Regions from separate parts of the Homo sapiens genome. Here regions 1, 3, 4, 5 and 6 are each linked to region 2. Evidence: fine-mapped expression QTL. A gene starts in region 2. Each other region holds a variant in brackets. All regions are shown on one strand. Distances are from middle to middle. Region 1 has its middle 3.2 kb from the start of UAP1L1. Region 2 holds the start of DPP7 (dipeptidyl peptidase 7). Region 3 overlaps CCDC187 (coiled-coil domain containing 187). Region 4 holds the start of MAN1B1 (mannosidase alpha class 1B member 1). Region 5 overlaps C8G (complement C8 gamma chain). Region 6 overlaps ABCA2 (ATP binding cassette subfamily A member 2).

Region 1 (5,257 bases), 40 kb after region 2:
AACCAAGACTTGGACGGAGACCTCCTGGTGCAGAGACAACCGGCCAGAGTGCATTGAAGAGGCCTGGGCTACGGCTGAGCTGTTGGGAGGCTGGAACCAGACCAGGTTCCGGGATGCCATCCCGCGGCTTGGGGCTCCCTCCCGCACACCCTTCCTGCTTCCCATTGCCTGGTGACCAGAGCGCTCTGCAGCCCCTCGCCCACATTGTTATTTTACTATCAGGTTTTAAAATATCTTGCTTGTGGTCGGCGCGGTGGCTCAAGCCTGTAATCCCAGCACTTTGGGAGTCCTAAGTGGGGTCAGGAATTCGAGACCAGCCTGGCCAACATGGTGAAACCCCGTCTCTAATAAAAATAGAAAAATTAGCCGGGTGTGGTGGCAGGCGCCTGTAGTCCCAGCTACTCGGGAGGCTGAGGCAGGAGGCCTTGAACTCAGGAGGCGGAGGTTTCAGTGAGCCGAGATCCTGCTGCTGCACTCCAGCCTGGGAGACAGAGTGAGACTTCTCAATAAAAATAAAAATAAAATAGTTTGCTTGTGAAAAATATGAAAGGGTAGCTTCTGCCAGTTGGGCACAAAACTTTCTCCTAGAAACTATATAGTAAGTCTAAAAGTAATATATGTGACTGCATAAAAGAATTCAAATGGTGGCCAGGTGCAGTGGCTCATGCCTGTAATCCTAACACCTTGGGATACCGAGACAGGATGATCGCTTGAGCCCAGGAGTTCAAGACCAGCTTGGGCAACATGGTGAAACCCCGTCTCCACTAAAAATACAAAAATCAGCCAGGTGTGGTGGCGTGTACCTGTAGTCCCAGCTACTTGGGAGGATGAGGCACGAGAATCACTTGAACCCGGGAGGCGGAGGTTACAGTGAGCCAAGATCGCACCACTGCACTCCAGCCTGGGTGACAGAGCGAAACTCTGTCTCAAAAAAAAAAAAAAAAAAAAAACCGGGCGCAGTGGCTCACTTCTGTAATCCCAGCACTTTGGGAGGCCAAGGCGGGCGGATCACCTGAGGTCTGGGGTTTGAGACCAGCCTGACTAACATGGAGAAACCCTGTCTCTACTAAAAATAGATACAAATATTAAATATAAATATAAATATATAAGCATGGTGTTGCATGCTTATAATCCCAGCTACTCCAGAGGCTGAGGCAGGAGAATCGCTTGAACCTGGGAGGCGGAGGTTGCCATGAGCCAAGATCGCGCCATTGCACTCCAGCCTGGGCAACAAGGGCGAAGCTCTGTCTCAAAAAACAAACAAACAAACCGAAAAAGAAAAACAAATCATGCTGTTACAGGAAAGAGGTTCCAGACCTCAAGAGAGGGTTCTTGGATCTTGCGCAAGAAAGAATTCAGGGCAAGCCCATACAGTAAAGCAAAAGCAAGTTATCAGGAAAGTAAAGGAATAAAGAATGGTTTCTCTACAGACAGAGCAGCCCTGAGGGCTGCTGGTTGCCCATTGTTATGTTTTTTTGGATGACATGCTAAACAAGGAGTGGATAATTCATCCCTCCCCTTTGTAGACCATATAGGGGAACTTCCTGACGTTGCAGTGGCATCTGTAAACCGTCATGGTGCTGGTGGGAGTGTAGCGGCAAGGACAACCAGAGGTCACTGTCGTTGCCATCTTGGTTTTGGTGGGTTTTGGCCGGCTTCTTTATCGGAACCTCTTTTATCAGCAAGGTCTTTGTGACCTGTATCTTGTGCCGACCTCCTGTGTCATCCTGACTTGGAATCCTTTAACCATCCAGAAATGCAGCTCAGTAGGCCCCAGCCTTATTTTACCCAGCTCCCATTCAAGATGGAGTTGCTCTGGTTCACACACCTCTGACAGTGATCTAGGACCCAAAATGAAAACTAACATCTCCCTCATGCTGCCCCGTGGACCCCTCAGGCAGTTGTGTTTCCTTGCAGTTGGGTTCTGCCCCCACCTCCACACACATGCCCTCACTGAGTTTGGGAGGGGGCTTCACCCCTGGGGCAAGGCCCACATGCACTCTTCTGGACCTGCATGGAGTTGCTTTTCGGGCCTGCCTCAGGGTCTCTGCACTTCCTGTTCCTCCCTCCTGGACCGCTTGTCCCCAGAGAAACGTGTGGCTGGGGACGCATTTGGTCAGGCCTCAGCTCCCCAGGCCACGCCCACTCGGTGAGCACCTTCCCATCCTCCGTGCCAGGCTGCCTTTCTGCATTCTTGGCTACCTGACTCCCCTGTGAGAAGCGAACCCCACAAAGGCGGGGAGTTGCTGTTTTTGTTTTGTTTTGTTTTTTGTTTTGAGACCGTGTCTCATTCTGTCGCCCAGGCTGGAGTGCAGTGGTGCAATCTCGGCTCACTGTAACCTCCGCCTCCCGGGTTCAAGTGATTCTCCTGCCTCAGCCTCCTGAGTAGCTGGGATTACAGGCGCCCGCCACCACACACAGCTAATTTTTTGTATTTTTAGTAGCGATGGTTGGCCAGGCTGGTCTTGAACTCCTGACCCCATGATTTGCCCGCCTCGGCCTCCCAAAGTGTTGGGATTACAGGCATGAGCCACCGTGCCCAGCCCAGGCAGGGCATTGTTTAGGCCAGTGGTCTGCC[C/T]CCATCACCTCAGGTAAATGCAGCACACAGTAGGCACTCAATCAATGTTTGTTGATTGAACAAACGAGTGTTGAACCCCAGCCCACACCGTGACTGGGCAACAGCAAATGTTCAGGGAGTACCTGCTGCATGAATGAATTAATGAATGGCCTGTTCTGCTCCAGTGGTTTGTGGTGGTTGAACATCGTTTAGGTGAACGTTGGAGTTGGAGGGGAGGCTCGCGGAATCCGGTGAGCAGAGCAGGCTTCCCGCCCCAGGCCAGAGTCCATGGGAACCCTTATCACCCCTGCAGGGCTGGGCAGCAGAGGAGGCACATGTCTCTTGGAGGCAGGTGTCAGGACATGAACTGTTGGCCCTGTAGGTCAGGGTGATTCCAAATCCCACCTCAAGGTGTGGGTTGGGCTGTAATAGAAGATTTGGAAAATCAAGGTTTGTACAGCCAGAGGCACTTGCGGCACCAGAAGGGGAGGAGCGACCCTGCCCAGACCGACAGAGCCTACGGATGGGTGGGAGTGCTGGCAAGGCTGAGGTGGGCAGCAACCTCCTGGACCACCTTGTGGCCAGGCAGTTGTCTTCACAAGAGGCCCAGGGGAGCAAGGCCCTAAGGCTCAGAGGCCAGGAGTGCAGACGGGGAGCCCTGGGAGGCTCAGGGGCTGGGTGGCTGTTGCCAGTTCTTCACTTGGTGCCCACTGCTGGGGATACATCAGGGGACAGAGGGGCCGGTCTTCCTGCCACCTCTGCCCAGAGTGGTCCAGGCTTACACAGTGAGAACACAATTACAGCTAAGATGGGGCCTCCAAAAGTACAGGGACAGCATGGGACCCCCAGGGGTGACACAGCACTAAAACCTGAAGGATTGGGAAACTATCAGGCCAGCCGGAAAGTGGAGTGAAGGAGGAAGTGGTCAGAGCTCAGGACAGGAAGGACACAGGACCACATCTTAGCTCCACGCCCAAAGCCAGGCACAGCCTCCAGTCTTTTTTTTTTTTTTTGAGACGGAGTCTCGCTCTGTCGCCCAGGCTGGAGTGCAGTGGTGCCATCTCGGCTCACTGCAAGCTCCGCCTCCTGGATTCACGCCATTCTCCTGCCTCAGCCTCCCGAATAGATGGGACTACAGACGCCCGCCACCACGCCCGGCTCATTTTTTGTGTGTGTGTGTGTTTTTAGTAGAGACGGGGTTTCACCATGTTAGCCAGGATGGTCTCGATCTCCAGACCTCGTGATCCTCCCGCCTTGGCCTCCCAAAGTGCTGGGATTACAGGCATGAGCCACCGTGCCCAGCCTTTTTTTTTTTTTTTTTTTGAGATGGAGTTTTGCTCTTCTTGACCAGGCTAGAGTGCAATGGCGCGATCTTGGCTCACCGCAACCTCCACCTCCGGGGTTCAAGCTATTCTCCTGCCTCAGCCTCCCGAGTAGCTGGGATTACAGGCATGGGCCACCATGCCCGGCTAATTTCGTATTTTTAGTAGAGACGGGATTTCTCCATGTTGGTCAGGCTGGTCTCGAACTCCTGACCTCAGGTGATCCGCCCGCCTTGGCCTCCCAAAGTGCTGGGATTACAGGCGTGAGCCACCGTGCCCGGCCTCCAGTCTTTTTCATACCTTCCTCCAATACCCAGCCAGGGGCCACAGAGAAGCCCACAGACCAAGGGCCAGCTGGGGCCGCCTCCCCCAAGGCTCTGGATGGTATGAAAAGCCCTTGTTTCATCTGCACGGTGGGTTCAGTTCCATGCGGGGCCATGGCTGGCCTGGCCTGGACACTGCTGGCCACGCTGTCCTGAGCTGCAGCAGCCTTGCTCACTGCTGGCCACCGACTCCACATCCACACTGGCCTCCCCTGCCATACCACTGAGCTGTTCCCAGCCCTTCCCCATCCCTTAGGCCTCAGCCTGGCTTGGTGCCCACTCAAGGATGGTGTTTCCCATATGATTTCACTGGATACGGCTCCCCAGTGCCATTCACAGAGCACCCACTGTGGGCCAGGCCAATGCCAGGCCTAGAAGGAGCCCTGTCCTGCTTGCAAATAGCCAGGGCCCCCTGGGCCAGGAGAAAGCTGTCCCCTGTGTTTTATCTAACTAGGCTTCAGGGGGAAGGGGACTGGGGCCAGAGCAGAGTTCTGAAGGATGTAGTGCGGTCAGCCTGGAGCAGAGGGGAAGGGCCTTCCTGGTAGAAGAGCCACCAGGCACAGGGGCCTGGAAGTGAGGGAGTGCAGGGACCCCAGGCCTGGCACTGGCGGTGAGGGGTGTGCTGGAAGCAGGGTAGGTGTGGGGATGGGGGGGCGGGGGCTTGCGTGTTGTGCTGGTTTGTTTTGTTTTGTTTTGTTTTTGAGACAAGATCTCGCTCTGTCACCCAGGATGGAGAGCAGTGGCTCAATCACAGCTCACTGCAGCCTCAACCTCTTGGGTTCAAGGGATCCTCCCACCTCAGCCTCCCAAATACCTGGGACCACAGGCATGCACCACCACGCCTGGCTAATTTTTTAAACTTTTTGTAGAAATAGGGTTGCCTTATGTTGCCCAGGCTGGTCTTGAACTCCCCAGCTCAAGTGATCCTCCCGCCTCGGCCTCGTGCTGGGTTTTTGAGCAGACCAGCCATTAAAGGGGAAGCTGGCTTACAGGACCAAGCTCTGATGGGCTGCTCCAGGCTCAGAGCTTCTTATGTCCTTCCAGCATTCCCTACG
Region 2 (5,257 bases):
TCCGGGGATGGGCAGAGAGAGATCGGGGGTGTCTGCACAGGCATGGGCAGCCTAGGCTCACTTGCCCCTTGGGTGACCTACTGTGCCCTGCACAGGCTGACGAGGGCCCTGGCGATGCAGACCTGGGGTCCTCCTGCAGAAGTTGGGCCCCTTCACATGTCAGGTTGCTGTGCCAGTGAAGGGGTGGCCAGCCCCTCCACACCTGTGGGTGTTTCTCGTCAGGTGGGATGAGAGACTGAGAAAAGAAATAAGACACAGAGACAAAGTATAGAGAAGGCAGTGGGCCCAGGAGACGGCGCTCAGTATACGGAGGACCCGCACCGGCCCCGGTCTCTGAGTTCCCTCAGTATTTATTCATTACCATTTTCACTATCTTTGCATGAGGAATGCGGCAGCAGAGCAGAGGTCAGCAAGAAAATGTGAGCAAAGGCATCTGTGTCACAAATAGCTTGAAGGGAAGGTGCTGTGCCCGGATGTGCACGTAGGCCAGATTCATGCTTCTCTCCACCCAAACATCTCAGTGTAGCAGAGTAACAGAGCAGCATTGCCGCCAGCATATCTCGCCTCCAGCCACAGGGCGGTTTTCTCCTGTCTCAGAATAGAACTAATGTACGATCGGGTTTTACACGGAGACATTCCGTTCCCAGGGGCATGTCGGAGACAGAAGCCTTCCTCTTATCTCAACTGCAAAGAGGCCTCCCTCTTTCACTAATCCTCCTCAGCACAGACCCTTTATGGGTGTCGGGCTGGGGGACGATCAGGTCTTTCCCTTCCCACGAGGCCATATCTCAGGCCGTCTCACTGGGGGGAAACCTGGACAATACCCAGGCTTTCTTGGGCAGAGGTCCCTGCGGCTTTCCGCAGTGCACTGTGTCCCTGGTTAATGGAGAATGGAGGATGGCGATGACTTTTACCAAGCATACTGCCTGCAAACACATTGTTAACAAAGCACATCCTGCACAGCCCTAAATCCCCTAAACCTTGAGTCAATACAGCACATGTTTCTGTGGGCACAGGGATGGGGCTAAGGTTACAGGTTACCAGCACAGGCCTAGATGCCTTAAACCTTGATTCCATACAGCATATGTTTCTGTGGGCACAGGGATGTGGGCAGGGGACTGTGGCCACCCTCACCCCTGGCAGAGCCATGCTGGGTAGCCCCATGCCCACCCTTCCCGGCTTGGGAGGCCCTGGCTGCTGCCCAGAGGGGCATCAATGCCTGGGCCGTGGACAAGAGGGAAAGTGGCTTCCTTGGAAACCCTGCTCCTGGAGCCCTCCCTGAGGCTCTGGCCCCTCTGTGGGCCCAGCCAAGCCTGGAGCGTCTCCAGGCTCTGGTGTGCTTGGGGAGCTGGCCAGCTCTCGGCCTAGCTGGCGTCTCCAGAGCTGCGGTCCTGGGTGAGGGTTGCTGGTGGAGTTCTGGCCACCTAAGGCACCCGAGGGAGCCAAAGGAGCAGAGGTGTGGGGTGGGGGACGCCGTGGGGTACCTCCACATCCAAGGAGGTCTGCTGTTTGTCCTCACCCCCGTCCTGCGGGGGCCCCGGCAGGCAGCCCCAGGAACTGCGTAGGGATGGGACAGGGCCCAGATGTGAGGGCCGTGGTGGGGACGGTGTGTGGCCCTGGATGACCTCGTGTTGCAGTGTGACGTGATGGTCACTGCCACCATGCTGAGGGCCCCAGCCACCAGTCACCCACCATGGGGGGTGCCTCTGTGTGAGGCACGGGAGGGCCATGGCGTGAGGGGCTGTGGAAGTGGCCGGTCTTCTCCGCTCAGCCCCACACAGGATGGGCAGGGCAGGGTCATGCTGGCCGAGGGTAGTCTTGGGAGAAGGACAGGGTAACTCTCTGTAGCTGAGCCCCTGCTGCCCCTGCACCTGTTCTGGGCCTGGCTAGCGGCCCATGTACATCCCCAGCAGGACTCCACGTAGCTAGTCTGGCACCCACCACTACGGCCCCCTCACCCACTCCCTGAACTGGACGCTGGGGAAAGGTGACTTCTTCCATCCTCTGGGTGCTCCCCAGGGAGGAGGCCCCAGCTCCCAGCAGAGGCCTCTGGTCCCCCCTTGTCCCTGCAGGGCTGTGTGGGCACACTGGGTGCCAGTCGGAAGGGCAGGTGGCGATTCCCAGCTCTTGGGAGCTACCCGGCCACATCCCGGCCCTGCCCAGACGCTCCAGGGGCACCCCACACTCCTGCCCGCTGCGAGGCCCCGCCCCGCCAAGCCCAGCCCGTTATCGCTTGGACAAACCCTGGGTTGCTTTCTTCGGGGGGCCAGCACTCTGTTTGGGACCCTCTCCCTCCCGCCCTTAGGGCAGCAGAACGGCCCCCACTCTCCCGGCCCTGCCTTGGAGTGGGGCACCTGCCAGGAGCAAGTGCTGGGGAGGCTTGGCGGGCGCAGCAGGGACTCGCCCTAGCGCAGCTCCGGATGGGGCCGCGGTAGGAGGACGAGCCAGTGGGGCGGGAGGCCGCGGAGATGGCCCGGGGGCCCTCTGCTTCCCCGCGCCGTGCCCGGGAAGGACCCCTGGGCAGCGGCCGCGGGGCGCGGGGTGTTGGGGGGCACAGCCCCGGCGCGGCGCTGAAGCAGCGACGGTCTCCGTGGGGACCGCGGGCGCCCGAAACACGTGGGGCCTGGAGGGAGGAGCGCGCCCTGGCGGCCCCGTGACCCCGCCCACGTGACGGGCGCCCGCGGAAGGCGACATGGGCTCCGCTCCCTGGGCCCCGGTCCTGCTGCTGGCGCTCGGGCTGCGCGGCCTCCAGGCGGGGGGTGAGTGGCGGCGCCCCCCGGCCCATTCCCCGGTCCCGGCCCCGCCTCTGAGGTTCGCGTCCCCCCACAGCCCGCAGGGCCCCGGACCCCGGCTTCCAGGAGCGCTTCTTCCAGCAGCGTCTGGACCACTTCAACTTCGAGCGCTTCGGCAACAAGACCTTCCCTCAGCGCTTCCTGGTGTCGGGTGAGACCCCGGCCCCGGCCCGGCCGCCCCCGCCGTCCCGCCGCCCCCCGGCACCCTCGCCTCATCCGCCCTCCCCACAGACAGGTTCTGGGTCCGGGGCGAGGGGCCCATCTTCTTCTACACTGGGAACGAGGGCGACGTGTGGGCCTTCGCCAACAACTCGGCCTTCGTCGCGGAGCTGGCGGCCGAGCGGGGGGCTCTACTGGTCTTCGCGGAGCACGTGGGTGCCGGGCGGGGTCGCGGGCGGGGTCGCGGGGCACGTGGGTGCCGGGCGGGGTCGCGGGCGGGGGTCGCGGGGCACGCGGGTGCCGGGCGGGGTCGCGGGCGGGGGTCGCGGGGCACGCGGGTGCCGGGCGGGGTCGCGGGCGGGGGTCGCGGGGCACGCGGGTGCCGGGCGGGGTCGCGGGGCCGGGCTCAATGGCACGTTCCCCCAGCGCTACTACGGGAAGTCGCTGCCGTTCGGTGCGCAGTCCACGCAGCGCGGGCACACGGAGCTGCTGACGGTGGAGCAGGCCCTGGCCGACTTCGCAGAGCTGCTCCGCGCGCTACGACGCGACCTCGGGGCCCAGGATGCCCCCGCCATCGCCTTCGGTGGAAGGTGGGCGCCTCCCCCGGCCTCCGCACCCCCTCCCTCCCCTGCCCCGACCCAGCGCCCCCAGCCCTTCTCCCCACTCCCCTCTGACTCCCACCGCTGCCTTTTCGTAAGGCCTCAGGCAGTGGTTCCAGGCTTAGTGTTGCCTCCCCCAGGAAGCCCTCCCACCTGTCCTCCCAGCCACCTGCTCAGCTTGGATGTGCGGCCACACTAGCGGCCTTTCCCAGTGAGAGCTGCACCCGCACCTGGCCCAGGGTTGGAATTTGTGGGTCTCAGAAGTGTCGTCCTCCTTGTGGCACCTGTGGGCCCCTGAGGAGGAAAAGAGGAAATGGGGTGTTGGGGGCAGCAGCCCTAACCCTGTGTCCCTCACCCAGTTATGGGGGGATGCTCAGTGCCTACCTGAGGATGAAGTATCCCCACCTGGTGGCGGGGGCGCTGGCGGCCAGCGCGCCCGTTCTAGCTGTGGCAGGCCTCGGCGACTCCAACCAGTTCTTCCGGGACGTCACGGCGGTGAGTGAGGCTTGGGGTCCTCCAGGCCCCCTAAGGGACAGCAGCTGCAGTCAGCACGGTCTCTTTCCCCCAGGACTTTGAGGGCCAGAGTCCCAAATGCACCCAGGGTGTGCGGGAAGCGTTCCGACAGATCAAGGACTTGTTCCTACAGGGAGGTGAGGTCCTCCCACCGCCTCCCACTGCCTGACCCGCCCCAGCGCCAGCTATGCCCAAACTTCAAGTCTCTGCCCCTTCCACGCAGCCTACGACACGGTCCGCTGGGAGTTCGGCACCTGCCAGCCGCTGTCAGACGAGAAGGACCTGACCCAGCTCTTCATGTTCGCCCGGAATGCCTTCACCGTGCTGGCCATGATGGACTACCCCTACCCCACTGACTTCCTGGGTCCCCTCCCTGCCAACCCCGTCAAGGTGAGGCGCCGCCTCCCAGGGCGCAGGGAGAGGCCGGCTGGAGTGTCCCGAGGCTGGTGGTCAGCGGCCTGACCCTCATCCTGGGAGCCAGGGAGGCGGAGCTGGTGGAGGGGACCCCGCTGAGTCGCCGCTGCCCCTGCACTCCAGGTGGGCTGTGATCGGCTGCTGAGTGAGGCCCAGAGGATCACGGGGCTGCGAGCACTGGCAGGTGCCCTTCCCCCGGCCCCAGATGGGCAAGTGTGGAGACCCCAGGCTTGGCTTGGGTCCTGGGGCCGGGTGGGGCGAGGATCCGCAGCCCGGCCAGGGGCTTTGCCTCCTGCCCCAGGGCTGTGGTGGGGTGGACAGCACGACCTTCCCAGAAACCCTGGGGGAGGCAGGGGCCGTCCCTGGGGACCCTCTCAGCACTGGCTGTAGCCAGGCCCAGCTTGGTGGGTGCTGCCCAAGGGGCCCCTGGGGTCCCCAGCATGGAGGGCAACAGAGGGCAGCAGGCCCCACCCTGCCCCGTGGAGAGCGGGGGGGCCCTCAACAGTCAGGCCCGGGGCTGGCAGCACAGACACCGCCGACCTCCAAGCAGGTAGCCTGGAGGGCCTTCCTCACTGGGACCTACAGATCCCAGAGCCCCAGATCCCCTGCAGGACCATTCCGAGGGGGGACAGGTTGGTGGCCGGAGCCCGCGGTGTGTCTGTGTGTGGCCGCTGGGCCCCAGCGCCTCTCCTCCCCAGGGCTGGTCTACAACGCCTCGGGCTCCGAGCACTGCTACGACATCTACCGGCTCTACCACAGCTGTGCTGACCCCACTGGCTG
Region 3 (5,257 bases), 840 kb after region 2:
GTGGGCCTCTGGCCTTGGTTGTTTATGCTGTCGTAACAGAATCCCAGAGACCGGATGATTTATAATGACCAGAAATGTATTGGCTCACAGTTCTGGAGTCTGGGAAGTCCAAGAACAAGATGCCGGTGTCTGGCAAGGGCCTTCTTGCTGCATCAACACAGAGAGGAAGGCAGGAGGGCGAGAAGGAGAGAGGACGACGGGGTGGGACTCTTCCTTTTATAGTGAACCTGCACCCACAATGATGGCACTCATCCATTCACAAGGGTGGAACCCTCATGGCTGAATCGCCTTGTGGCTGAATTGCCGCCTCATGGCTGAATTGCCTTGTATTTCAACATGAGGAGGGACAAATGTTCAAACCATAGCAGCACCTTTTCTCTTCCCAGAAAGTGCAGCCCAGGGAGGTGCAGCAAGCTTCCCAGAGTGCCCGGGTATGGGCTGGGATGGGGCTCCGTTCTCCCACTGCTGGATTTGCTGACCGCCCTTCCTGAAGGCTGGATGGGCAGGGGCTGGCTGCTGTGAGTCACAGACAGTTCCAATGGCTGCAGGACAGCCACGTCTTGGCCAGGATCTCCCAAGGGGGTGAGGTCAGAGTCAGGCTCTGCCTCCTCCTTGGAAGGGGCAGCCTGAAGGGGCAGTTTTTACCCCTATACCTCATTCACCATCCTATGGGCGGAATGTGCAGTAGCCCCAGGGGGACAGGCAACAGGAGTCTGTTGGGTCTAGTTTTTATGACTGGAGGCAGCACTGTCCGAGAGAATCTTCTAGACATAAACACTTCCACCAGAGCTGTCCAATGGAACCTTCTAGACTTAAACACCCAGAGCAGAGCTGTCCAGTGAAACCCAGACTTAAACACCCAGACCAGAGCTGTCCAATGGAACCTTCTAGACTTAAACACCCAGACCAGAGCTGTCCAATGGAACCTTCTAGATTTAAACACCTAGACCAGAGCTGTCCAATGGAAGCTTCTAGATTTAAACATGTAGACTAGCTCTGTCAATGGAACCTTCTAGACTTAAACACCCAGACCAGAGTTGTCCATGGAACCTTCTAGATTTAAACACCTAGACCAGAACTGTCCAATGGAAGCTTCTAGACTTAAACATGTAGACTAGCTCTGTCCAGTGGAACTTTCTAGACTTAAACAGGTACACCACACTGTCCACCAGAACCTTCTGCAATGAGGGAAATGTTCCGGATTCTGAGTTGTACAATATGGTAGCCACCAGCCACATGTGGCTGTCAAGCCATGAAATGTGGCCAGTGTGACTGAAGAGTGGCATTTTATGTTTTATTTTCTGTTAAGTTTAAATGTAAACGGTGGGTGTGGCTGCCAGCCGCCATGTTGGACAGCAGGGCCCTGGCTCTCAAACTCCACAGCCCCCACTGAGGGTAAGGGTCCTGTCAGCCTCATTCTGGTTTGAGGCTGTGACTCCCCAGGACCCAAGCCACATGACTGAGAACGTAGCTAGTTAACATCATCACTACCAGCAGTGACCGCAGCTGCCATGTGCCAAGATCTGTCAAACTGTCCCATTGCATCCTCACAGCTACCAGGGACTTTGGGGTGGCACGTGGGGCTAGACTTTTGGGGCTCCTCACCCATTGCTAGAGGAGTCAGGGCACTCACTGGGGTGACTCCTGCAGTCTCTGTCCAGCCAGGGCCGTGCCCAGCTCGGGGACGGCTCGCTTTCTCCGGGGTCACAGCTCAGAGCTCAGGAACAAACAGCTCATGTCCCCCCATGTCCTCTGATCTGTTGGGTGCTGACATGGCCGGTGATGACCAGGACTCCCCCTCCTCAGGCCACAGCTGGGAGATCTGTGGGGGCCGCAGGACTGTGGGGCTCCCAGGAGCCAGAGGGGCATTTGGTGGGGCTGGGGACCCTTCTCTGGCTTCAGCCTCTCTCAGGGCCATGAAACAAAAGCAAAAGATGGTTTCTTCCCTTTGCAAAAAAGGAATTTCAGCTCAGAACAGACACCTGAACCCAAACAAAGAAGTGTAAGAGTGTCTTCACTTCCCATCATCACCAGTTAGATGGGGGCCACGGGGGTGACCCCGAATGCTCAGTGCACGCCAGGTGGCCAGGCGCCCCTGCTGCTCACCCTGTCTCGGTGCTTTGGGGTGTCCTCTGCTGCTGTGGAAACGCCCAGGAACCGGCTTAGCTGTGGTTCATGGCTGAGCTGCTCCGTTCCGGGAAGGCGAGCAGTCCACTGGAGGAGCTGCCGGTTCTGGGACAGTCGGAGTGGGGATCCTGGTCTTGGCTCCATCCATACACCAGCCAACAGTGACCAAGGCGCTCATCCACAAGCCATCACGAGGGCCCCACCATCTGCAGACCCCATTGCATGCAGCACCTCCTGGTGGCAGCCTCTGTGGGGCCAGGAGCTCCAACAGCATTCAGAGTCAGAGCTGGGACTTGGGGCCACCAAGGAGAAAGGGAAGCCCCCTCCGCTGCTGCTGGGGACTTCACTATCCAAGGAAGAGGCTGAGGTTTTCATACCCAAGCTCTGGACCAATCCCAGAAATTCCAAGGAGAGCCCTGGACTTGTGCCAGGTGCTTACATCAGCACCCACCCACCCTATGAGCACCCACCCACCCCCTCAGCACCTGCCCACCCCCTCAGCACCCACCCACCCTGTCAGCACCCGCCCACCCCATCTGCACCCACTCACCCCCTCAGCACCCACCCACCCTGTGAGCACCCACCTGCCCTGTCTGTATCCACTTACCCCCTCAGCACCCACCCACTCTGTCAGCACCCACCCACCCCATCAGCACCCACCCACCCCGTTCACACCCACCCCGTCATCACCCACCCACCCTGTCCACACCATCAGCAGCAGCTTCTACCTGCTGAGTGCACAGCCAGCCTGTACCAAACTATCTCCTTGGACCCTCACACAAGGGAAGGAGGAACCTCTGTGTCCCCACTGGGCTCTGACTGACAAGTGATTTGTTCAAGGTCACATGGCAAATGCATGACAGACCCGGTCTGTCTGGGGGCAAAGCCCATGTCCTGGGCCTCCGCCCTCCCCACAGACTCCTGCCA[T/A]CCATCCTGGAGTTGGTCCTGGCCGGGGTCAGGCAGAGCCAGCCTTAGCAGGGACGAGGAGATGCAGTGGGTCTCCGTGTCCTTCCGTGGGGCTGCAGCCCTCCCAGCCCTTCCTCGACATGCAGGGCAGGGGCTCTTGTTGATGGAGTTGATGCCAGCTGGGCTCAGGACTCAGGCCACCTGCACTCCTGGCCTCTGTGCCTCAGTTTCCCTGCAGGTGGAGAGGCTGTATTAACCTGTCATGCCATGGTGCACTAAGGCAGCGGCGAGGGGAGGCCGGGAGAGCGGCCTGGGCCACTCAGCTATCCCCCTCCATGGTTCCACAGGTCAGCAGGAGGACCCATGTGTGAGATGCCTTCCCAACACCCAACAGAAGACCTCCAGCTTTCTGGATTCTCTGAAGGTTTGCCCAAGGCCGATGACAGCTGGGTCCCCTTTCTGCTAGGTGGTGAGCCGGGAGCAGCCTCTGTCTCCCAGAGGCCAAGCAGAAGTGGCACTAATGTGCAGACTATAGAATTTAGAAACAGAGTGGCCGGGTGAGAGGGAGGGGAGCATGCAGGTGGGAGGAACAGACAGAGGGCGCCTGGCCTTCCCGGGCTGATGGGGAAGCCCCTGGCAGGGAGAGAAAGTCGGGGGGCTGGAGGGAGGGGCCCTGCCCAGACATAGGATCCCTTGGGGTGACCCCCGAGGAAGGGGCCCACCCTCCCTGGCTGGGGGCAGCAGGAACCGTGAGCTGTGGGCTCTCCCTGCAGCTGGACCAGCAGAAGCAGGCGTTGGCCCTCCTGCGGCAGCGGGCAGAGCTGGAGGCCCGGGAGACACAGCAGACCCTGGATGGGCTGCTCTTCAGGAGGCGGCTGGAGGTAGCAGCCGCTTGCCACAGGGGGAGCCCCTGTCTCTGCAGGAGGTTGGGTGGGAAGGTCAGTCACACTGGGAAGGAATGCGGAGACTTCCATAGGAACAGTGGGTGCCCCTCGTCAAGAGGAGGCAAGCCAGAGGCTAGAGCTCCCTTTAAAGCAAAGTCTCTATGCAGAAACAGGAGGTTTCAGCCACATGTGTCCTGGGGGCGCTGGCACTGGGGGGTGCCCCAGCGGGAACCAGAGCTGGGTCACAGATGGCCATTGGAGCCTCCCACCTGTCCGTGTCCCAGGCTTGGTAGGCCCCTGAGCCCTGGGCTCTCCATGGGAGCATGCAACCCAAAATGCATGTGGTGCTTACACCCCCGGCAGGTCTCTTGCCAGACAGGAAGGAGCTTAGTGTCTCCTGAGCCACCTCTGCCGGGCCGTCCTGCACCAATAGTGTCCCCTCCGAAAGGCAGCTCCCACTGCCCGGGGTGGCTCAGCACCTGCCCCATGAGGGGACAATGTCACCCAGTCCGAGGAGCGGTGACCCTGGCAGGGGATTGATCGGGTGGCTGACGGCTGTGACCTGGCTGGAGGGGATAAACCTTCTGGGAGGTGGACCTTTCTTCTGTGTTTGGTTCAGGGGTCGATGGTGGGAAGTACATCCACGGTACATGTTGGGGGGCATCTCCAGGAGAGTGATGGAAGTATGTGCGTGCACACGTGTGGGTGTGTGCACGCGTGTGGGTGTGTGTGCACGTGTGTGTGTGTGGGAGTACACATACAGGCAGCCTCAGACCGACAGCAACAGAGACACCCTGCCCTGTGTCCCTGCCTGTTCCCTCCCTGCTCCCCGCATCACAGGATTTGCTCCCCTCCTGTGCCTGCCCTCCCAGCACCCCCAGCCGGGACCGGAGCTGGGGTTTCCTTCCCACCCGTCTCCATGCAGCTGGTCCCCCAGCTCCCACACCCTCCAGCCCTGGCGGGGCACTGGCCACCCCTGCTTCCTTGCAGTGGCCTCTCTGGGAGGCAGAAGGGGGCTGTCGGCCCCACTTGCAGGATGGACAGAGAGGCCCCTGAGGTTGGAGACTTGCCCAGCTTCAGGCTCCTCCTTGGGACTGGGCTTGGCCTGACCGCCCCGACCCAATGCCCACAATTGTGGAGCCGCCTCCTGCATTCTCCGCAACACACCTCCCACTCCTCACAGCAGCTGATGGAGAGACACTCGACCCAGGCCAGGCCAGAGGAGGCGTTGAAGCTGGAGCAGCCTCCGATGTGCAAGGACCGAGAGCCGACCACAGCCTCTCAGAGCACAGGGATGGCCACACCCAGGTGAGGTCGGGGGCTGGGGCTGGCCACCCCCT
Region 4 (5,257 bases), 28 kb after region 2:
CAATCTTCAGTGGTTTGAAATGCCTCTGGATTGAACCCCAGTTATAACCCCACACCATTTGCTCAAAGTACCTGTGACGAAATCTCAGGTAAGTTCTCAGGGTCGGTGTCCGCCTTCTGAGGAGCTGGTAAGACGGGTGGATTTGCTGGTTTTAACCCAGCAATTTCTGGCCTCATCTTCTGCTCTTCCTCTAGCCTGAAAGCCAGAGCTGAATAACAGAAGCTATTTTATTTCAAATATGCCACAAGGCCTACAAGAGATTTAAACTGCTTTATAAAAACACTTGGCAGGCACTATCCATTACAAATCAACATTATGATACCTGATAGTCACTGAAATGAATTCAACAATGTCCCAAGGGAATGAAATCTTTTTCAAAACACTTGGCAGTTTGTGTCCTTGTCCATAACACAGAACCCCACATCTTTTGCCTTCCTATTTTCCATTCAGGGACGTTCAGCATGTGGCAGGTGGGCAGGAGCCCTTTAGCTTTGCTCCAAAGAGAAGCATCTTAGACCAAGTGAGAAGAGATTCTCCACATCCTCACCAGAACTCTGCCTGGTCTTTTCCAAACACACGCTAATGAGTGCTACGAAATTTGTGTGGTTATTTAGGCTGAGTGTTCAAGCCCACCAGCTGACTTACTCTATAAGGGAGGCTGGACATATCAGTACTTACACCAGAGACCTAGAAAGTAGTCAGACAGCATCAAATTAACATCTGTGTTCTAGCCAGGTGGTTACATACAGCTCTACCTTTCTCTTTATCTTGATTTCTTGCCAATTCGTTGCCATATATGCCTCCTGGAGCTGTTTAAGGTAGAATGCAAGATTGCTTCTGCCCAATCAACCCTCAACACAGATATCGTTTTCAAGTACACGTGTTTCTGATACCTTTCCAATGGTCAGCCAAGTTGATGTAGAAGAGGAGTCCACAGAAAAGCAGAAAGGCAAGGAGGAAGAGAATCATATTCCGCTGCAATCTCGACAGTTGCTTCCATTTCTAAGGGAGGTACAGAGAATGACATTTCTTACTGAATATATCACACGGAACGTCTCAACTGTCACAAACTGTGAGGACAATAAGGAATTCTTCTGGAAGATCCAGTGTTCAGCTCTATTTCTTTTTTTTTTTGGAAACAGGGTCTCATTCTGTTACACCTAGGCTGGAGTGTAGTGGGTGGAACGCGGGATGAGCCACCGTGCCCGGCCAGCTCTATTTATTTTGAATGGGGAGAAGTTCCCTCTCAGCAGGGAGTAGGAACATTGCTGGGACAATACTACAGATGTCGTTAATACAGTGGTGCAGATGAGACGAGGATAAGAAAAAAGCAGAAACATTTCTGTCACATTTCATCAACAGTGGAGAAAGACTCCTGCGACTCCCACAGATGTAGCCCAGGCACCGCCCAGGCGATGCACAGTCCGCATGTGGTTATCAATGCCCTTCGGCCTGAGACCACCACGAACAGACCAGGAGCCAATCAAGAGGGGCTCATTTCTCACTGTACCGAGGGGAGCATACACCACGGGGAACCTCCGGTTTCCGCTCCAAGAGGGGCAGGCGCCTGGGCCAGGACCTTGCAGAAAAGCGAACGAAGCCCAGAAAACCTGCTGGGGCTCTGAGCCCTCTTCCCACCACCGCCCCGCAGAATTTGGGCCGCTGAGACCGCTGCAGGCGAGCCGCCCACGGCTGCCCCAACCAGGAACGCACATTTGCCCCTTTTTGCGGGGAAGGGGTGGAGAGGGCGGCGCCTGGGGAGTCGAGTCCGCCCGCCCAGGTCCCGCTCGGAGCCGCAGTCTGGGAGGGCGGCGGGCACGGCAGCCCCGGGCCCCAGTCAGCCCGGCGCGACCCTCACCCTCCAGCACGAGCGCCGCCGCCAACTCTTGCTGTTGTCATAGTTCTCGCCAAAGCTCAGCGTCACCGAGATGAAGTCCCGATGAGGCGGCGGCGGCGGCGGTGGGTACATGACTACAGTGGTGGCGACGGCCCAAGGGGCCCCGCCCACTGGCGGCGTCAGGAAGTCCGACTGAGAGGAACCGAGAGCTCCGCTTCTCCTGCCCTCGCAGGCAGCCATCGCAGCGCCGTCAACAGCCCGCCCATCACACGGATACGCGACTGCGCGTGCGCTGCGTCTCTATGCGGCCAGTGCGCCCGCGCCTGTCTCCGCTGCGCTCCAGCGTACGGGGCTGCGTCCTACGGCGACTGCGTCAGACAACTGCTGCGACTCCGCCCTGCCCTCAGGTTCATTGCGCATGCGTCCGGCAGCGCCTGCCCAGGTGTGCTACGAGCGTAGCTGTAGCAACGGGGCGGGCCTTGGTTCGCCTGGGGCGTGGTCGCTGTCTGGGGCTCCCACGTGGTTCGCCTCATGGGCCTGGAGCTGGGCTTCTCTCGCCTCCTGTCGTCTGGCTGCACCGACTTTGCCCACGCCCTCACGGGAGACGCAGACACTAGGGACCCGGGGAGGCGCCCGGGCGGGGCCGCCATGTTGGCAGAGAGTCCCAGCGTCCCGCGCCTCGGTTCCGGAACCCGCGGCGCGGGGATGGAGCTGGGCTGCCCTTGGGCGCCGTCCTGGGCTGGTGCCCACCCTGGCCGCGTGGTCACCGGCAAGAAGCCCAGGGCCTCACCCAGGCGTGGGGGCCGGGGGAAGGACCGGACCCTCCCGAAGTCGCGGACCAGGCCGGGCGGCACCCGGGCTGGGGTGGCTGCTACCCCGAGCTAAGCTGGCTGCGCCGCATCTCACGGTCCCCGGGGCCCGAGCGCTGCGCCTGGACCGGCGCCGAGCGAGGCGGCCAATCGGCCGGCTGGACCCACAGTCCCCGCGCCATAGGC[G/T]GGTCGGGGCTTTCAGACCCGGCTCCCAGCCCTCGAACTCGGTAACCTTGGAGGTCAGCTTGAGATGACTGCGCTTCCTGCACGCGTTGTCCTCCCCAGAAACGCCCAAAATGGCAAAGCGGCGTCCGTGGCCGCCCGAGGCCCTCCCTGCCTGGGTTCTCCCCAGCCGAACCTCACGCCCGGCCCCTCCTTCATTCTCTCCTGGCCAGGCTGCTCCTGCCCTTGGGCGAATCCGCTGCGTCCCACGGTCCTGACTGTGGCATTTCTGCGTGTCTGGAGAGCTCCCCCGGCAGCGACGTCCTGCTTAGCACGTGGCTCGTCTAACTCTGTTCCCCTGGCCTCCTGCTCTTCTAGGGGTCATCTTTAGGTTTCTGCTGGTCTCTGCCCCCTGTGACACTTGCTGGTACCCAAATGAAGTCGTTTATGTCACACTCTAACAAGAGGCCCTGAAGAAGCCCTCACAAAAACATTAGCAACGGAGCGCCTGCGGCAAACCCTTCTAACCTTTGGTCTTTATGGTTTCAAAGCAGTTTATGGGAACTTCTCTTTTTTAAAAGATTCCCCTTGGGGCCAGGCGCGGTGGCTTCTGTAATCCCAGGACTTTGGGAGGCCGAGGCAGGTGGATCACTTGAGGTCAGGAGTTCAAGACTAGCCTGGCCAACATGGTGAGACACCCGTCTCTACAAAAAACACAAAAAAATTAGCAGGGCATGGTTGGTGGCAGGCACCTGTAGTCCCAGCTACACGGGAGGCTTAGGCAGGAGAATTCCTTGAACCCAGGAGGTGGAGGTTGCAGTGAGCCGAGATGGCACCACTGCACTCCAGCCTGGGCAACAGAGCAAGACTCTGTCTCAAAAAAAAAAAAAAAAAAAAAAAAGAAATTTCCCGTGGGCGGGGCACAGTGACTCATGCCTGTAGTAATCCCAGCACTTTTGGAGGCCAAGGTGGGCAGATCCCCTGAGCTCAGGAGTCCAACCTGGGCAACATGGTGAAACCCCTGTCTCTACAAAAAATAAAAAAATGAGTCCAGTGTGGTGGTGTGCACCTGTGGTCCCAGCTACTCTGGAGGCTGAGGTGGGAAGACCACCTAAGCCCCAGGAGGTCGAGGCTGCAGTGAGCCATGATTGCACCACTGCACTCCAGCCTGGGCAACAGAGTGAGATCCAGTCTCAAAAAAAAAAAATTCCCCCTTTCCTCAATCCCCACCCCACCCCCCCACCACATGCCTGTGACCCACTGAGGCTTGCATACTCTGCATTGCAATTATGTGTTATTCTTGATTAAATTCATTTATTCTGGAGAGCCTGAGTTTCTCTTTAGGTTGACACCACTCACTCTTGTCAGTCCCTGGAGTACCCCAAGCATCCTCACGTGGTTAGCAGGGAAACCTTGGCATCTCAAGGATGCAGGTGCAGGAGAGCGAGTCTCCAGGCTGTCAGAGCTGAGCATGCAGAAGCCTGCCCTGGAGAGCGCCCCGAGGTTCCTGACCGCAGGTTGTCTCAGGCCCTCCTGAGACCCTGGTGAAGAGTGGGATGGGACCGCGGGGGGATTCCTTGGCACCCCAAGTAGTCTTGGCCTTCATGTGTGAACTCCTGTCCCTAAGGGGGCCCCCAGTGAGCTCCAGCCCTGGGACACAGCTGTGAACACCTGATCCTTGTTCCCAACACCCGTGCACTGCCCAAAAACTGCACTTGCCAGAGTAGCAGTCAATTACGGCACCTTGTGTTTATTGGAAATATTCCACCTACAGAACATTAAGATGCCAGCAACCGGCCCGGCGCGGTGGCTCACACCTATAATCCCAGCACTTTGGGAGGCCGAGGTGGGTGGATCACGAGGTCAGGAGATCGAGACCATCCTGGCTAACACGGTCAAACCCCATCTCTACTAAAAATACAAAGAATTAGCCAGGCGTGGTAGTGGGTGCCTGTAGTCCCAGCTACTAGGGAGGCTGAGGCTGGCCTGGAGGTTGCAGTGAGCCAAGGTCACGCCACTTCACTCCAGCCTGGGCAACAAGAGTGAAACTCCGTCTAAAACAAACAAAAAAAAAGACTTCACCCAACTAACTGTGCTTGTGTAGAAAGAGGTTGCATCCCTGTTCCAGTCATGGCCATGAGGAACAGCTATGAGAAGGGCCCTAAGGCACAGCATGGTTTGCAGTAAGAAGGGCAGAGCCAGGGAGAGAGAAGTAAACATCATCTTCTGGGCTTTGGTTTCAAAAATCACAAGGTGTGGGCCTGAGCCTGCTGCCTGCCCAGGTCTGGGCGCCTCCACTCAGCCACTGTCCTCCCAGTGCCTCTAAATCTGGAAGGCTGCATCTGAACCTGCCCTTCCAGACAACACCCCTCCCCTGGGAAACCAATGGGGATGAGTAGTGGCCCTCCACTGGGGACTGTGGGTTTCGAGGTGGGGGCAGAGGATGAGT
Region 5 (5,177 bases), 170 kb after region 2:
TAGCTGCCCTGGCACCCCTTGGACGATGGGGCTAGGGAGTGGAGTCCCCTTCCTGACCTCTCCTCCCATCCTCACAGGTAGCTGAAGCCTCTGGGTGCTGGACTCCATGTTAGGGGTCACCAAGGGTGAGCCAGGTGCCTCCCACTCACCGTGTGCCTGGCCTGTGAGCCTCTGTCCAGGCCCCCCAGGTCCCTGTCCTGGCTGCCCCCTCCCACCCCAGATTCCCTGTCCTGGCCACCTCCTCCCCTCATCCAGCCCTGCTTACAAGGGACTTAGGCTCATCCCAGGAGGTGCCCTGGGCCTCGGCAGCCTGCCCTGGGTGGCAGCCCCAGCCTGGCCACTCGAAGAGCCCAGCCCCCAGGACTTCAGGGCTCCAGGGCTGGGCTCTGTCCCAGGCCTCACTGCCCACGTAGAAGGGCAGCTTGCTGTGCCTTGTCTCACCAGCACAACGCTAGCGTTTCAGGAGGCTGGCCCAGGGAAGGAAAAGTTGGAAATAATCTGTTCATTCCCCTGAACTCCCCAAGGCGCCTTCGACTCTCCACCATCCCCCTGGCCCCAGCCAGCCTAGGAGCGCCTGTCCGCAGCCCCAGGGTCCCGCTCTCAGCGCAGCAGGCACCCCTCCCGGAGCCCGTCTTATCGCAGGGCACTGGGGAGATTTGGGATCACAGCACACAGCCCATGTACAGGACAGTCCCCGCTACGGACCCCGCCCATGCAGGGCCCTGCGGGAGGAAAACCGGGCCTTCCCTGGCCAGCCCGAGACCCACAGAGACTGAGCAGCAGAGGTCGGGTGGGCCGAGTCCTCGACACAGAGGAGGGTCCCTCGGCTCCAAGCAGCGCCTCAGGCCCCATGCTCCCTCCCCCAGACCCACTCCTGCCGCCCTGGGGGGTCTGTGTGTGCCTCCAGGTAGCCACTGGCTGCTGCCGTTAACCTCTGTGCCCCCCACGTCCCCTGCAGGAGCCTCCCGGACACGACAATGGGTTCGGCGCGCCTCCTCCCCCCACCGCGGGGCAGACGCAGGTGCTGCTCCTCCCGTCTAACGTGATTGGTGGAGGGTGGGCACGTGACCTCCGCCGCCCAATCAGGGCCCTGCAGGTGCCTTTGCCTGGCTGGGCCGGCGGCGCTGGAACGGGCCGTGCAGGACGCGGGCCTTGAGGCACCTGCGGGGCTCCCGGGGGAGTCCTGGCTCTGACCTCGGCCTTCCATACCGCCTGGGGTGGGCGGGCCGGGCGCGGCAGCACACGCCAGTGAGCCCAGCGCTTTGGGAGGCCGAGGCGGGAGGCGGTGCCCGGGAGCTTGCGTGCCACGGGGAGGAGCAGCCGCGCCTTCTGCAAGGCGTCCTTGAGAGGCGGGAGGGAAACCGCCGCTTCCACTCAGCACCCTGGACCCCCAGCCCACCGTGGGGACCGGTCCCTGGGGCCTCTCCCATTGACCCCTCCCATCAGGTCCTCTCTTCCCTCTGCTTCGCTCCCCGGCACCCCCACCCCCAACCCATCGCCTTCATCTCGGCCTCCCCACAGCAACAAGGACAGACTTACCCTCCACTGCTCTTCCTCCGTTCCCGGAAAACTCCCGGCCTGTCCTCTGCTCACCCTCCCCTCTCTCTTCCCACTCTCCGGGCAAAGACCTTTTCCCAGACACGGTCCTGGGCGCTGGGAGGCCCCTTGGGGGTGGGGTGGGGGGCCAGGGGTGGTTGGGGCGTGGCTGGGGAGGAGGGTGCCTCGTCCCCACATGGAGGAGTCCTGGCCCACCTGTCCCTCTGAGCACCTGCGTGGGCAGGGAGGACGGGCACGGCACCTGCCTGTCGGCCCTGCCTGTGGGACCAGGGGCTCCCGGGGCCCCACACAGCACTCTCACGTCCAGGCAAGGCGGGGGCACCCAGGACAGTCCTGGACTCCTGACCCCGCAGGTCTTGGGCAAGACTGCTAACAATTAAATGTTAGTTTCTATAGATGAAAAAACTTTTTTTTTAAATAGAGATGAGGTCTCACTATGTTGCCCACCCAGTCAGATCTTGAACTCCTGGCCTCAAGCGATCCTCCTGCCTCAGCCTCTCAAAGTGCTGAGATTAAAGGTGTGAGCCACTGTGCCCAGCCAGTTTGCATAGTTTTGTTGTTGTTTGTTGTTGTTTTTTAAATAAATTGAGACAGAGTCTCGCTCTGTCACCCGGGCTGGAGTGCAATGGCGCGATCTCGGCTCACGGCAACCTCTGTCCCCTGGATTCAAGCGATTCTCCTGCCTGAGCCTCCTGGGTAGCTAGGATTACAGGCGCCCACCACCACGCCTGGCTAATTTTTTTTGTATTTTTAGTAGAGACGGGGTTTCACCATGTTGGCCAGGCTGGTTTCAAACTCCTGACCTCAAGTGATCTGCCCGCCTCAGCCTCCCAAAGTGCTAGAATTACAGGCGTGAGCCACAGCGCCCAGCCATTTCCATAGATTTTTTTTTTTTTTTTTTTTTTGAGACAGAGTCTCACTGTCGCCCAGACTGGAGGCAGTGGCATGATCCCGGGTCACCACAACCTCTGCCTCCTGGGTTCAAGCAATTCTCCTGCCTCAGCCTCTGGAGTAGCTGGGATTACAGGCGCCTGCCACCATGACCAGCTAATTTTTGTATTTTTAGTAGAGACAAGGTTTCACCATGTTGGACAGGCTGGTCTTGAACTCCTGGCCTCAAGTGATCCACCCGCCTCAGCCTCCCAAAGTGCTGGGATTATAGGCGTAAGCCACCACGCCCAGCCAAATTATGCAAACTATTTTAAAGAACAATGATTCACACAGAGCTATCGTGATTTTATGTAGTGTTTGAAATTTAACTAGAGCTCATTCAATGCTTCTGTGAAAATGAAATGCCTTGTAATCCTTGCGCTGCACATCCTCTGGTCCCAGAGCACACAGCCAAGTGGCCACGCACTTCACTCAGTGCGGGAACCCACCCAGCCCTGCAGTCAGAGGCGTGGAGGGTCAGGCTGGGCCACTCTGCCACCAACCACAGCACCCAAGGTCATCGGGTGGGTCTCTGGCGCCACCCCTCGGACATTCAGCCCTCCCTGAAGCTTGTGACCGTGGCCAGCTACCCGACTCCTCCTGCCCCCAGATGAGACCCTCACTTTCTGTTTGGGGGATGTGGGGCCAGGCATGGAGGAGGCTTTCCTGGGGCTCAGGCCTAGAGTCTTCCCGGCGTTGCCAGCTCTGAACCCTGAGCCCTTCTGCTGCGCCCTGCTATCTCATGGGTCTCTGGGACATGGAGCTGGAGTGGGGGAAGGCGATGCAAGGGTACGACCTCCTGGGCCCTTCTCCTTCCCAGGTCCCGGCAGTCAGGGCCCCTGCCTCCCCTTCCCACCACCTGACTTGCCTGCCCTCCTGGGGTCTAGCAGCTTAGTGAACAGGTGGGCACGGCAGGGGGAGCCCCGCCCGTGGGATGGGGACCCCCCTGAAGCAGCTGCTGGCTCCTCCCTGCCCCCACCCAGGCCGTGTGCTTTGGGACCAACTCCAAGGTGCCTTCTCCTCCCATCCCTGCCCACTGTGGCCGATTGGTGGCTGATCCCTGGACTTGTAAGTTCCTAGGGGGAGGGACCAGCCCACCTGGTGGTCCCAGGGCCCAGCACACAGTGGGCCTTCAGAAATGCTTATCAAACAAATGCCAGTGGCCGCA[G/A]GCAGGGCCTGAGAGGAGCAGCTTAGCGGCCAGGTCCAGGCCCAGCATGGTCAAGCCATGCCGGGTTCCTGATTCTCCGGCCCTAGCCCAGGGGCTGCCCCGAGGGCAGAGCTGGCCCACCCCCACATTCTCTTCTGCTTCCTGGTTTCACGGGGGACGTGGGAGTGGATGAGGTGTGCAGAGAGTGCAGTGGCTGTGGGTGGACAGCACCAACTGCTGCCACCAACACGGGCCAGCTGGTGCCAGCTCGGCTCGGAAGAGGCCAAAATGGGCAGTGACGGGAGACAGCTGGCCTCCCACGGGGGCGGAAGAGCAGCCCGGGGGCTGCAGGACAATGGCCCAGGCAAGAGCAGCCTTGGAGTGAGGCTGGACGCCCCCAGGTCCCAGCAGGGCACAAGATGGGCATATGCCAGAGAGGATCTCCCCTCCCAAATCCCAAGAGCCGCTGAAATCGGCCCAGTGCCCACTGCGTGGACTCCAGCCAACAGGGAGCGCCGGGCTTTTAAAGAGGCGGGGTGGGGGCAGAGAGGGCCTTGGTGGTACTGGCGCCGGTCCAGAGTGGACAGAAGAGTCAGAGAGGGGTCTGAGACATTTAATAAGTAGGTACCACTCCACCCACTGTCCTCTGGGGCAGCCGGCAGAAGATCCCCTGCCCTGGGTGGCAGGGCCCTGATCTGAGGCTGGTTTCACGGAGGACAGGCAGCGGGCACCCCACTGGTGGGGTCGTCTCTCGGGGCACTGACTTCTCAGCACTGGAGCTGTGTGCCGGCCTCACCTCCTCACTTCTGCAGCAGAGACGAGACTCAGCCGGTGGCAGTGGCCCCCCTCACCACGCCGCCATGCTTGCCCCGCTGTGCACTCACCGTCCAGGACGTGGAACTGGTCTGCAGCCTCGCAGAAGCCTGGGGGCCCAAGGCAGGGGTCAGGCTGGACATCAGCCCAGAGAGTGGGGGTGGCTGAGCTGGGGACCTGCTGGGGACACTCACCGTACTTGGGGAAGTAGAAGATCTGGTCCTCAGTCAGGTGGGCCTCCTGGACCCGCTGCTCAAACCCACTCAGGACCGAGTCGCTCACAGGGAGCGAGCGGGCTGCAGGGCAGACAGGGTTCCTGGGGTCCTGGCACCAGGCGGCGTGGAGGGCTCTGGAAACGGGGTCTGTGTGTCCCCTGCCCCCTCGGGGCCCTCTCCCTGCTCCCACACCAGGCCTGTCTGTCACTACTCCCTGGGCCCCTGCTTAGCAGGAGGATCAGGATGGGAGAAAGGAAGTGTGTCCCCATGGGCTCACCCAGCCCCTCGGGGTGGCCCAGTGAGTGTGCAGAGCTTGAGCGCCTGCCTGGTCACAGAGGCTGGCCCCCACATACCGTAGAGCTTCACTGACAGCTGCCCCGCCCGCTCCAGGTACAGGACAGCGAAACTCTGGTAGTCGGTCTCAGCGACAACCACGTGCACAGCCCCTCGGGCGTCTCGGGCTGGGGCAGAGCCACAGTAGCCATGTCAGAGAGCCACAGTGGCTGCGTCATCCC
Region 6 (4,190 bases), 100 kb after region 2:
ATGTGAGTGTCGGAGGGGCAGGGCGGTGGGCATCTGCTGACCAGAGCAGGAGTCCTAGTCAGGGCAGGGTGGGGCCCCTGCAGAGGGCGTGGGGTCATGACCCCGCCCACCTACCCAGGTCCATCCTGACCGGCCTGTTCCCTCCAACGTCGGGTTCCGCCACCATCTACGGGCACGACATCCGCACGGAGATGGATGAGATCCGCAAGAACCTGGGCATGTGCCCGCAGCACAATGTGCTCTTTGACCGGCTCACGGTGGAGGAACACCTCTGGTTCTACTCACGGCTCAAGAGCATGGCTCAGGAGGAGATCCGCAGAGAGATGGACAAGTGGGTGGGCTGGGCGGGGGGCGGGGCAGGTGGGCGGAGGCCCTGGGGCTCTGCATAGCAGCAGCCCCATGCCCCACCTCCCTGTCCCAGGATGATCGAGGACCTGGAGCTCTCCAACAAACGGCACTCACTGGTGCAGACATTGTCGGGTGGCATGAAGCGCAAGCTGTCCGTGGCCATCGCCTTCGTGGGCGGCTCTCGCGCCATCATCCTGGACGAGCCCACGGCGGGCGTGGACCCCTACGCGCGCCGCGCCATCTGGGACCTCATCCTGAAGTACAAGCCAGGTGAGTGGGGTGCCGTGTGGGCAGGGGTGCGGGCGGCGCCTCCCCTGCCCCCTGACCCTGGGTCTGGCCTTGTCCTAGGCCGCACCATCCTTCTGTCCACCCACCACATGGATGAGGCTGACCTGCTTGGGGACCGCATTGCCATCATCTCCCATGGGAAGCTCAAGTGCTGCGGCTCCCCGCTCTTCCTCAAGGGCACCTATGGCGACGGGTACCGCCTCACGCTGGTCAAGCGGCCCGCCGAGCCGGGGGGCCCCCAAGGTCTGTGTTGAAGCTGCCTGAGCTGGCTTCGGGCCACCTTCTCCCCGGGACCCCCACCTGAGAATCCACAATGGAGAGGCTGGGCCCTCACCGTCACCCGCTGGGCCCAGGATGCCTGCTGGGGCCTGGCCCGCCCTCTGCAACGCCCGTATCTTGGAGAGGCTGGGTCCTCAGCGTCACCCCCTGGGCCCAGGATACCTGCTGGGGCCTGGTTCTTCCTCTCCAATGCCCATATCTTGACCCAGTTGGGTTCCCATTGGGGGTCCCTCCTCCCAGCCCCTGAGTGAATTCCTTCCTGCTCCCACGTCCCCCACAGAGCCAGGGCTGGCATCCAGCCCCCCAGGTCGGGCCCCGCTGAGCAGCTGCTCCGAGCTCCAGGTGTCCCAGTTCATCCGCAAGCATGTGGCCTCCTGCCTGCTGGTCTCAGACACAAGCACGGAGCTCTCCTACATCCTGCCCAGCGAGGCCGCCAAGAAGGGGGCTTTCGAGCGCCTCTTCCAGGTGTGAGGGCGCACGGGTCGGGGGGCAGTTGCAGGTGGTGGAGGTGGGCGCACTCCTGCCTGGGCGTCCCTGCCGCAGCCTCCCCCTCCACCGCCCCTGCAGCACCTGGAGCGCAGCCTGGATGCACTGCACCTCAGCAGCTTCGGGCTGATGGACACGACCCTGGAGGAAGTGTTCCTCAAGGTGTCGGAGGAGGATCAGTCGCTGGAGAACAGTGAGGCCGGTGAGGGGCCTGGACCACTTGCTCAGCCCACCCCACCCACAAGGCCCCAGCTCGGGCCTGCGCTGTCACTCCTGCCTGGTGTCTGGGGGCGCCACCCTGGTCCTGGGTGGAAGCCAGGGGACGCCCCGGGGTTAGCCTGCGGTCCTAGGTGGGTGGTCCTGGTGGCCAGAGGTCCCGGACAGGTGTATGAGCCTGGGAACTGGGGTCAAGACCGGGGATGGGGGTCCTGGGCAGGCCTAGGGGCCAGTAGCCCTGAGTGTCCCCTCGGCCCTTCCACTGCGGCAGATGTGAAGGAGTCCAGGAAGGATGTGCTCCCTGGGGCGGAGGGCCCGGCGTCTGGGGAGGGTCACGCTGGCAATCTGGCCCGGTGCTCGGAGCTGACCCAGTCGCAGGCATCGCTGCAGTCGGCGTCATCTGTGGGCTCTGCCCGTGGCGACGAGGGAGCTGGCTACACCGACGTCTATGGCGACTACCGCCCCCTCTTTGATAACCCACAGGACCCAGACAATGTCAGCCTGCAAGGTGGGGGTGGCAGGGTGAGGCTGGGACAGCAAGGGAGGGGGAGCAGGGTTGCGGGGGAGCGGCATGAGGGCAGCCAGTAGGGAGAGGGTAGCGTGCAACCACCTGCTCAGCCTCTACCTCTCTGCACAGAGGTGGAGGCAGAGGCCCTGTCGAGGGTCGGCCAGGGCAGCCGCAAGCTGGACGGCGGGTGGCTGAAGGTGCGCCAGTTCCACGGGCTGCTGGTCAAACGCTTCCACTGCGCCCGCCGCAACTCCAAGGCACTCTTCTCCCAGATCTTGCTGCCAGCCTTCTTCGTCTGCGTGGCCATGACCGTGGCCCTGTCCGTCCCGGAGATTGGTAGGCCACCGGCTGGAC[A/G]GGGGTGCTGGGCTTGCCTCCCCCCACCGCCCGCTGGGAGCCCTGATGATGCCCACTCCTGAGCTTCCTGACTCTGGGCCTCACCCCACACCTGAGGCTGGGCACGCACCGGGGTTCATCCGGGAGTCCTGTCTCCTCGGGTCCCAGACCCCAGGCGTGGATCCCTTGGGGTTGGGGGAAGGGGACCGAGGCTTGGGGGCCGCTGGCCAGAGGGCAGAACCTGCTCAGGCCTCCCTGCTCGCCCTGCCAGGTGATCTGCCCCCGCTGGTCCTGTCACCTTCCCAGTACCACAACTACACCCAGCCCCGTGGCAATTTCATCCCCTACGCCAACGAGGAGCGCCGCGAGTACCGGTGAGGCCTCCAGCGGGGGCAGCCTTGGTGGGTGGGGCGAGTGAAGGGGCGGGGACAGCCTTGGTGGGCCAGGCGGGCGAGGGGGCGGGGCTGGCGAGGGGCGGAGACTGGCAGCCCCACCTCACACTGTCGGTGCCCGCAGGCTGCGGCTATCGCCCGACGCCAGCCCCCAGCAGCTCGTGAGCACGTTCCGGCTGCCGTCGGGGGTGGGTGCCACCTGCGTGCTCAAGTCTCCCGCCAACGGCTCGCTGGGGCCCACGTTGAACCTGAGCAGCGGGGAGTCGCGCCTGCTGGCGGCTCGGTTCTTCGACAGCATGTGTCTGGAGTCCTTCACACAGGGGCTGCCACTGTCCAATTTCGTGCCACCCCCACCCTCGCCCGCCCCATCTGACTCGCCAGCGTCCCCGGATGAGGACCTGCAGGCCTGGAACGTCTCCCTGCCGCCCACCGCTGGGCCAGGTAGTGGTTCAGGGGGCCTGCTGGGGGGGCAGGGGCAGTGAGGGGTCCTTCTCACCGCACCATGCTGTGCCCACAGAAATGTGGACGTCGGCACCCTCCCTGCCGCGCCTGGTACGGGAGCCCGTCCGCTGCACCTGCTCTGCGCAGGGCACCGGCTTCTCCTGCCCCAGCAGTGTGGGCGGGCACCCGCCCCAGATGCGGGTGGTCACAGGCGACATCCTGACCGACATCACCGGCCACAATGTCTCTGAGTACCTGCTCTTCACCTCCGACCGCTTCCGACTGCACCGGTGAGCTGGGTGGGGAGGCTGTGGGTGAGGGTGGCCGGCCACCAGCCACCTAGTCTCAACTCCTGCCCCTCTAGCCTCACTGCCTGCCTAGCCTCACCGCCCCTCCCACCTGCCTGCCCAGGTATGGGGCCATCACCTTTGGAAACGTCCTGAAGTCCATCCCAGCCTCATTTGGCACCAGGGCCCCACCCATGGTGCGGAAGATCGCGGTGCGCAGGGCTGCCCAGGTGAGCGAGGCTGCGGGCCTGGGCCCCGCTGTGTGTAGCGCCGCCCGAGGTCTGCAGGGACCCAGGTCTGAGGTCCTGGGGCCTTTCTGTGTCCTCTTCCTTCTGCAGGTTTTCTACAACAACAAGGGCTATCACAGCATGCCCACCTACCTCAACAGCCTCAACAACGCCATCCTGCGTGCCAACCTGCCCAAGAGCAAGGGCAACCCGGCGGCTTACGGTGAGCTGACATAGGCAGGGCGGGGCGGGGCGGGGAGGAGCTGGGGCCGGGGCGGGGAGGAGCTGGGGCCTGAAGCTGCCGCCCCCGCCCCGCCGTGTGCAGGCATCACCGTCACCAACCACCCCATGAATAAGACCAGCGCCAGCCTCTCCCTGGATTACC

Evidence for each region. PIP is the estimated chance that this variant, and not a neighbour inherited with it, causes the effect.
Region 1: its variant is fine-mapped to the expression of DPP7 in whole blood (TOPMed, PIP above 0.99).
Region 3: its variant is fine-mapped to the expression of DPP7 in whole blood (TOPMed, PIP 0.98).
Region 4: its variant is fine-mapped to the expression of DPP7 in whole blood (TOPMed, PIP above 0.99).
Region 5: its variant is fine-mapped to the expression of DPP7 in whole blood (TOPMed, PIP 0.95).
Region 6: its variant is fine-mapped to the expression of DPP7 in whole blood (TOPMed, PIP 0.95).

Annotation. Positions count from the first base shown.
Region 1 is chr9:137,071,682-137,076,938 of GRCh38, reverse strand. No RefSeq gene overlaps it. Among named protein-coding and RNA genes, the nearest start is that of UAP1L1, 3.2 kb to the left of the region's middle. RefSeq lists enhancers at 2,274-2,333, 2,044-2,657, 5,241-5,257. The variant C/T (reference allele first, on the strand shown) is at 2,579.
Region 2 is chr9:137,112,149-137,117,405 of GRCh38, reverse strand. DPP7 (dipeptidyl peptidase 7) reads left to right here and starts at 2,673. Exons shown (of 13, transcript NM_013379.3): 1 at 2,673-2,759; 2 at 2,830-2,943; 3 at 3,024-3,163; 4 at 3,378-3,541; 5 at 3,910-4,045; 6 at 4,119-4,200; 7 at 4,287-4,453; 8 at 4,601-4,661; 9 at 5,176-5,257. The coding sequence starts at 2,693. LOC124902314 (a long non-coding RNA gene) reads right to left here and starts at 2,607. Exons shown (of 2, transcript XR_007061874.1): 1 at 362-2,607; 2 at 1-235. RefSeq lists silencers at 2,448-2,797, 2,828-2,977.
Region 3 is chr9:136,274,851-136,280,107 of GRCh38, reverse strand. CCDC187 (coiled-coil domain containing 187) reads left to right here. Exons shown (of 26, transcript NM_001378188.1): 11 at 3,381-3,457; 12 at 3,807-3,914; 13 at 5,101-5,225. Among named protein-coding and RNA genes, the nearest start is that of CCDC187, 27 kb to the left of the region's middle. The variant T/A (reference allele first, on the strand shown) is at 3,055.
Region 4 is chr9:137,083,820-137,089,076 of GRCh38, reverse strand. UAP1L1 (UDP-N-acetylglucosamine pyrophosphorylase 1 like 1) reads right to left here. Exons shown (of 9, transcript NM_207309.3): 9 at 4,539-5,257. It overlaps MAN1B1 (mannosidase alpha class 1B member 1), which reads right to left and starts at 2,092. Exons shown (of 13, transcript NM_016219.5): 1 at 1,859-2,092; 2 at 894-1,002; 3 at 72-208. The coding sequence starts at 2,077. MAN1B1-DT (MAN1B1 divergent transcript) reads left to right here and starts at 2,260. Exons shown (of 1, transcript NR_027447.1): 1 at 2,260-4,131. RefSeq lists silencers at 1,729-1,958, 2,509-2,738 and an enhancer at 1,939-2,168. The variant G/T (reference allele first, on the strand shown) is at 2,833.
Region 5 is chr9:136,946,031-136,951,207 of GRCh38, reverse strand. It overlaps C8G (complement C8 gamma chain), which reads right to left. Exons shown (of 7, transcript NM_000606.3): 4 at 5,016-5,123; 5 at 4,642-4,743; 6 at 4,519-4,557; 7 at 4,233-4,440. The coding sequence ends at 4,427. It also overlaps a transcript of LCN12 not described here. Among named protein-coding and RNA genes, the nearest start is that of C8G, 3.4 kb to the right of the region's middle. RefSeq lists silencers at 919-1,418, 1,439-1,538. The variant G/A (reference allele first, on the strand shown) is at 3,656.
Region 6 is chr9:137,012,103-137,016,292 of GRCh38, reverse strand. ABCA2 (ATP binding cassette subfamily A member 2) reads left to right here. Exons shown (of 49, transcript NM_001606.5): 21 at 1-2; 22 at 119-331; 23 at 422-618; 24 at 697-879; 25 at 1,196-1,380; 26 at 1,483-1,603; 27 at 1,889-2,125; 28 at 2,255-2,461; 29 at 2,730-2,832; 30 at 2,975-3,291; 31 at 3,368-3,581; 32 at 3,703-3,808; 33 at 3,917-4,028; 34 at 4,131-4,190. Among named protein-coding and RNA genes, the nearest start is that of LINC02908, 13 kb to the left of the region's middle. The variant A/G (reference allele first, on the strand shown) is at 2,480.